Linked DNA regions of Homo sapiens. The protein of the gene in region 1 interacts with the protein of each later gene in a pairwise test. Each region holds a gene or a part of one and is shown in the gene's direction. Other genes may lie near its edges. The genes, in order: MAFK and BACH2.

Region 1 (3,159 bases):
TGGGAGTCGGGACATATAATGGAAAGGCCCTCGGGAAGTTCCGCGTCCTCTGTGGGGGCTGCCGGAAGACACGGCCCCAGGAGTCAGGCCCCTGTGGTCAGGTCTAGCATGGGGCTTGTTTTCCACTCCTGCTGTAAGCAGCCTTCGACACCTGTCCTGCCACGGCCTCCCAGCCGGTGCGGGAGCCCCTCACTGCCCTGACCGACTCCGCAGTCCCCGGGGAGGAGCATGGATGGTGTGTCGGCAGCTCCGTCCTTCCAGCTGTCCCGTTGCAGTGCCCGTGATCCGCGTCTGCCTTAGCAGGGGCCTGCGTGAGTGGGCACGGTGTGGGAGGTCGCCTGCGTGGGGTGGTGTCTGTGTGTGTGCACGCACGCCTGCCATCAAAGCAGCAGGGCTGAGGGGGTGCAGCTTGCTGGTGTTCACTGGGGGAGGGCCTGTGGGCACACATGGCAGAGAGAGTGGCTCACACGTCGTGAGGTCTCCCCTGTGCTCTGGTGACCCGAGGAGGTCGTGCAGCACAGCGCAGAAGCCCCTGCCCACGGGATCCGGCCCCCCAGACACCGACCCCACAGGCCGTCCCGGATCTCAGCGGACACAGGCAGGAGCGCCCCATCATTTGACGGTGAGCAGGACTCAGGCTGTGTGTCCTGGAGCTACTTCTCACCAACTGTGGTCAGTGCAGGGGGAACGAGGAGGTCTTTTGGGGGCCTGGCGAGGGGAAGGGCTGCTGCAGTCTAGGGAGAGGGGGTGCAGCCTGGGGGATGTTGGTGGACATGGATGTGGAGGTGGAAGGAGGAGGACGTTGCGTGGAGTGGTGGGAGGAGGCGGGAGCCGTGTGCGAGAGCAGGTGGAAAGCCTTGAGGGGCAGGACCAGGATGCAGCTGGCTTGTAGAAGAGCTCAGGAGTGAGCCTGGCACTCCAGAGGGCGCGGCGGGTGGGGAGGCAGCAGGCACCAGTCCAGGAGAGCTTCGTGGACGTGGCTCCTGCGCGCACACCCCCAGGAGCACAGCCACGGGCTGCAGGTGTGGCTGGCCTCAGCACTCAGTCCTCACCCGGAGCCTTTGCCTGCTCCTCCTTCCAAGAGCACTGAGGCACCAGTGGGCTTGGCACTCCACCTTGGGCTTCCTTTTCCTGGAGAGCCGCCTTGAGGGTCCCTCCTGTGACTGGGGTCTCTGCAGCGAGAGCCGCGGGGGTTGCGGAGCCCCTGCCTGGGGGAGCTGGCGGAATGTGAGCCGCCGGCCGGGGGCCGCCACATAAGACCTGCAAGGTGGTGCCTGGGGCCCTGGCTCCTTCTCGGCTGCCCCTGCCCACCCAGTAACAGCCCCCACCAGCTACAGAGCCCAGGCGGGTGCCAGCCACGCTGGGAGGGCAGAGGACAGACAGCCCCGGGGCTGCGACTTGGTTCTGTGTCTACTGTTAGAAGTTGAGTGGGAAGCTGCAGGCCCGCCAGGACCACTGGGTCCCTACAGAGCAAAGGCCTGCGTGTTCCCAAACAGCCGTTGCCCCCGTGGCCGTGGTAGGTAATCCATATTGGATGTCATAAGGACCAGGGGGATATTTAAAGAGAGAAACAGAAAATATATAGAGATATAAAATTATATTCACAGTTTATCTACAGATTTTTCGTAACAATCTTTCTTTTCCAGTTTGATACTGTAAATCTATCAGAGCAGAGCCGGGGGCACGGGCACAGGTGGGAGTTGGGAGCAAAGCGGAGGCCCGGGCTGCCCGCCGTCCCCCTTCATCTCCCCACGGACTGTACCAGGCAGCTGGGCCCCGCAGGACAGGCCGCAGCGGGTGGCCGGTTCTGTCCCGTCTTGGGGTTCTTGGTGTCCACGTCTTGTGGGCCGTGGGCTTCTACCTGCCCTTGGCCTGCAGTGCTTTGCTGGAGAAGGGACTCCCTGGTCCCCAGGGTGGACGGAGCCGCTGTCACCGCCCAGAGCTGGGCCGGGGAAGCACGGTGTGTTCTGCTTTTCTTTTCAGATTGTTGAAATTTCATTGTCATGATTTAATATATGGATTTTTTTATTTAAGAAAAAGACGAGGGACTCTTTGTCACGTGGGTTTGTTTTCTGTCTCCGTGCCTCCGGCTTCCCAAAGAGATCCAGGTCTTTGCGTTTCCAGGGCGTGGGGACCCCGGCCCCCTATGCCGCCACGCCGCCACACCGCCTCACCCTGGCTTCTGTGCTACTTGGCAGTTCCATTTCATTATTTATTTTTTGTGCTGCTTTTTATCATGATATAAATTATTGAAAACAGATCACATGTGGGCCCGTGTCTGGCCGCCGCCGCCCTGCCCCGTCCCTGCGGCCACCACCTAATTTATTGCCGTGCGTCCTGCTGCTGTGACTGCTTTTGTACCTTTGCAATAAAGAATTTTCTGGTTTCAGACCCTTTCGTTGCGTAGCTGGTGCTTTCAGCTGGGGCTTTCTTGGGCCAAGAACCACACCCCCCCCCCAATCCCAGGGGACCCTGCCTGTCCCTCACCGGGGTCAGGATCCGGGCACTACGTGTAAGTGGCTTTCCCGGACTGCTGGGCCGTGACCGTGAGGCTGGGACAGCCACGGGGGAGGTGCTGGTCAGGTGACCACGTCCTGGGCTCAGTCTCTGAGGGTCAGGCCGCAGTCCTGAGTGTCCCCATCTGCCCCACCCGGAGCCCCCTGTCCATGCAGCCTCTCCCTTCCAGTGGAAGGAGCAGAGAGCAGCACGGCTGTCAGTGTTCCCCTTCCCTGGGAGACATCTCGCCCAGCTTTGCTGGACTCTCAGAGGAGCCTGCAGGAAGCTGTGAGCAAGACAGGGTCTGTCTGGGAGCAGAGAGCAAAGCGCCCCTGCACAGTGGCCGGAAGCCCGTGGACTCCTCCGAAAAGCCACGGGCCTGCCCGCATGCCGTCCCCACCCCGCCCGGCCTTCCCCGTTTTTGGGGCTGAGCTGACCGAGGTGTGAACGCTGTTCAGTGCTGGACCACGCAGGGTGAAATCCCAACTCGAGTTTTTTGAGACAGTATCTTGCTTTGTCACCCAAGCTGGAGTGCAGGGGCGTGATCACAGTTCACTGCAGCCTCGACCTCCCAGGCTCAAGCAATCCTCCCATCTCAGCCTCCTGAGTAGCTGGGACCGCCGGCACGCACCACCACGCCCAGCTAATTTTTGTATTTTTTTT
Region 2 (3,817 bases), on another chromosome or scaffold:
CTGCCTTGAAATCCCTGGATGAAAGGCACTGAATAAGTGCACAGTATTGTTATTCAGATATGGAATTTAATGATCCATTATAGTTCATCAGGAAAATGCACTTTGCAGTGATGGTAGGAAATGTTTCCACCTGATAGAGGGTAATAATAACTGCTTAAAAGTAGATTCAGATTACAGATGAGACAATTAACTCTAGCCATGTGCTCTTCAATTTGTTGCAATTCATTTTGTGATCAAAGTGAGTCACAGAGGGCCAGATGGTCAGGTTCATGTTCAGATCTCTCCTAGGCCAGCCCTTCACTTCTGGGCCCACTGTCTGCACAGCCGACAGGACTTAGTTATTCATTAGCGCTTGTGAGCTGTTTCTCAGAATTCCTAATCGAGGCTCCTGTGATGCCAACAAAAGGGCTCAAGCCAATCTGTATTGTTGAGAGCAGTTTAATTTTACTTGGATTAACTTTCAGTGTCTCTGGTGTGGATCCAGTCTTAACAAAAAGGAAAGAGACCCTAGTGGCTCTCTATCTCTGCTGTGCCTGGCCCCTCTACTCTAGTTTTTGAACCTCAGATTTCAGGGGTGTGACATCTAGCTTATTGTAAATGCAGGCTTGATTGTTAATGAATGAGAGAATACTTAGATAAATAAATATCTTCCTGTGTGTCCAGGGGGTGAGAGCCAGTACTAGCTTCATGGGCATAAGACCTGTGCAGTTACATAGGCCCCCTTCCTCTTCCCTGCTCAGAAGGACCTCATATTTGGTATAAGGTTCTGCTGTTTTCTTCGGAAATTCTTAATAATTTTTGAACAAAGGGCCCCTCGTTTTCATTTTTCACTGAGCCCTGCAAATTATGTACTTACCTGGTTCTGGTGAGGAGCAGGGCATAGTGTGGAGTGGCAGGCCGCCCCTACTCAACTCATTGTAGACTCTTGCTAGGGAACAGTTGGTAGGACTACTGGCTTTGTGTTGCCACATCATTTGATTTTTCCAGGGGAAGCTGAATATTGGATATTTATGTGGAATTTCCTGATTTTTAAATATTGGCTCAAATCTTTAAAAAATTTTTGGATGAAAGCATATGTAAGAGCTAGTGTCGGCCTGGGGGCTGCTTGTCTCCCACTACTGAACAGACTGAAACATCTTTTTTTGTTTAATATCTTTGTGTGTCTCTGTTTTCTAAAGGCCTGGCATATAGTGGATGATTTGTGAGTATGCACCCAATGAATGGTTACAACTACCTGGAAAATAGAAAGATGCCAAAAAAACAAAACTTCAAATCAACATTGAGTCCCACTCAGGGATTGATCAGCTTCCTTTTTAACAGAGAATTCGACATGAAAGGCCGAATAATTTAATACCATGAGTACAGTGTGATTCCTTGCAGGTGAATAATCCATTACTTTTGAACCACCTGCCCTCTATTTAGTTGTTACTGACCAGATGGGGTAACTTGGCTGGGTAATGCCTGAGGACCTCCATGGGAGTTTGACATTTGAGAACACTCACCAAAATAATAGTTTTGATTTACTGAATCCGCACCATGTGCCAGACCCAGTGCTGACTACCTTGCCTGAATGTACTTCATTGATTCCTCAAAGCAACCCTTTGAAGTAGGTGTCGTGCCTGCCCATTCTGCAGAGTTGGAAGAACTAATCTCATGTTGGAATGAACTTAATCTGAATATAGTGCATGTTTTCTTGAATGTCTGAAGGTTATTTCCCCATTCCATTACACAGTCCAGTCCTGAATCAATGACTGGGCATGGTGTAGGACTGTGACATACAGAGAACATGGTCCCTGCCCTCACATAGAACAGAGAACAATATAAAATGTAACATATTTGTCAAAATCTGCAATTCAGATAGCAGACGCTGTAAATCTGCCTCCCTGTTTTTCTCCTTTCCCTGTCTGGATGTTGAAGAAGTTTCAGCGACATATGACCCTGTCAGAGGTACTCACAGTTCAGAAGTCAATGCTGGTTGCAAAAATTGGAATTTCTTTGGAAAAGAAGACAAGCTTTTGGCAGAGCTGGGGCCACATATGGGAACGCAGCACCAAGGCCTTGGGAATGACGGAAAATCGCTTCTGTATTGTTAATAGCAATATATGACCTCTGCTGTCCTCCTATCTTTAAATTTTATGTAAATATTTACAAACTGTTCATGTCCAAACTGAAACCTGCTATGAACTAAACATTTTGTAAACTCAGTAAGATTGCCCAAAATACAACTCAACTTTCACCTTTTTTTTTTTGTTTGTGATGACATTTAATTTAAAAAAAAAAGACAGTAGTTGCTTTTTTTTTTCTTTTTTTTTGTCAGTTCAGGGTCTTTTAATTTTTTCCCTTTACTTTTTTTTTTGTTAATTTCAAATGTCAGTCTATCTAAAACTGAAACTTAATTTTACTATCAGCATGCTACTCAGCTTCCGTAAGGCTGGAAATGTCCTGCGAATCTTACCACTATGTCTTTTCCAAGGGCCATTTCATTTCTAAAGAATGTATAAATTGAACCTCATCCTGCTAGTGACACTACTTCAAAATTCAGGCAGGAATTTTGCCATTTGTTTTTCCTTGAGCTATTTTTTTTCCAAAATAATAAATCTTCCCAATCCAAAAGCATTTCACATCATCCTTCATTCTAGTCATTGGAACTACAGCCAAAATGCCTCTCAGTCTTCCCCAGTGACTTCATAATCACCGTTTCTTCAGCATATTCCCTGGTTGACTTCTCCTTTGTTCCTTAGCCTCATAATGAATTGCCCTTTGGTTCTGAGATGTGTCATTTTCCTCCCTGACCTTTTTGTTCTTTTCCTGAAGGCTGTAGGACATGCTGCTGCTGATGTGATGAGAGCCGGCGCTTGGTTGCTAGGTCCCTCCTGTCCTTGTGTCAGCTTTCATTGGCTCCTTTCCTAAGCATTTAAATCCTCCACTTTCCAGTCCTCCCATTCATCTCATTATTCTCTTCATGTGTGCCTGAGCCTGTAGCTGGCATGTAGACAAAGTCCCAGTTAGTTAGAAGAAAGCTTTTCGAGTTTCCAAGTCTTCCATCACTCTAGTCTTGGGCCATCTTCTATTCTCCCTCCCCTGTCACTTTCTGCAGATACTTCAGGAATTTCCTCAAGACTTTCCAGGAGTCTAACCCAAAGACAGCTTAGACCTTCACTTCGGATTTTAAAGTTGGGAGATCCCAATGTGATGATTTCCATTCCACAAGTAGGAAACAAAGTGAATGTACATGCTCAGCATCTTTCCTTAGTATTTCAGTATCCATAGATTTTTGGCAATTTTTCTTTTTTTCCTATCCTGTATTCTTCTAAGCAACAGAAGCTCGTGGATAGTGCAAAATGGGCCAAGTGTCCAGAAATACTGTTGCTTAGAGGCAGATGCCTCATTCATTCATTAAACAAATATATACTGAGTATCTCTTACATGGCAGGCATAGTGTTAAGTGACCACAGTGCTAATGGGGAGCAAACCCAGTCCTGGCCCCTGGTCTCATGAAGCACGTCATCTGGTAGGAAGAATGGCACTGATCAGTTAGTAACAGATAACCCACTGCTCGTGAAGGAAAGTATTTCATACACCAGAGTGTCTAATGGGCAGATTTAACCTGGTCGGGAGGTTGGGGAAGCCCTCCCTGAGGAATTGTGGAGTGACCTTCCATCAGGGACAGTCTGAAACTTGAGATTCACTTTTTCTCCAGCTTCCTAATCCTATTAATTCACTACTATCTTTGGCCCTTTGGAGTATTGCCTAAGCCATGCTGGAACCTCTGGGGCCATTTTGGCAAATAATAGTTCCTGTATACAGAGTCCAGAAT

The links.
Region 2: the proteins of MAFK (region 1) and BACH2 interact in binary tests that used the Homo sapiens proteins (3 or more experiments, as listed by UniProt).

The regions. Positions count from the first base shown.
Region 1 is NC_000007.14:1,540,653-1,543,811, forward strand, and holds the end of MAFK (transcription factor MafK), read left to right. Parts: 3' UTR 1-2,391; downstream 2,392-3,159. UniProt on the Homo sapiens protein: Since they lack a putative transactivation domain, the small Mafs behave as transcriptional repressors when they dimerize among themselves.
Region 2 is NC_000006.12:90,290,046-90,293,862, reverse strand, and holds part of BACH2 (transcription regulator protein BACH2), read left to right. Parts: exon of another isoform or gene 1-1,380; intron 1,381-1,917; exon of another isoform or gene 1,918-2,613; intron 2,614-3,817. UniProt on the Homo sapiens protein: Transcriptional regulator that acts as a repressor or activator. Binds to Maf recognition elements (MARE). Plays an important role in coordinating transcription activation and repression by MAFK.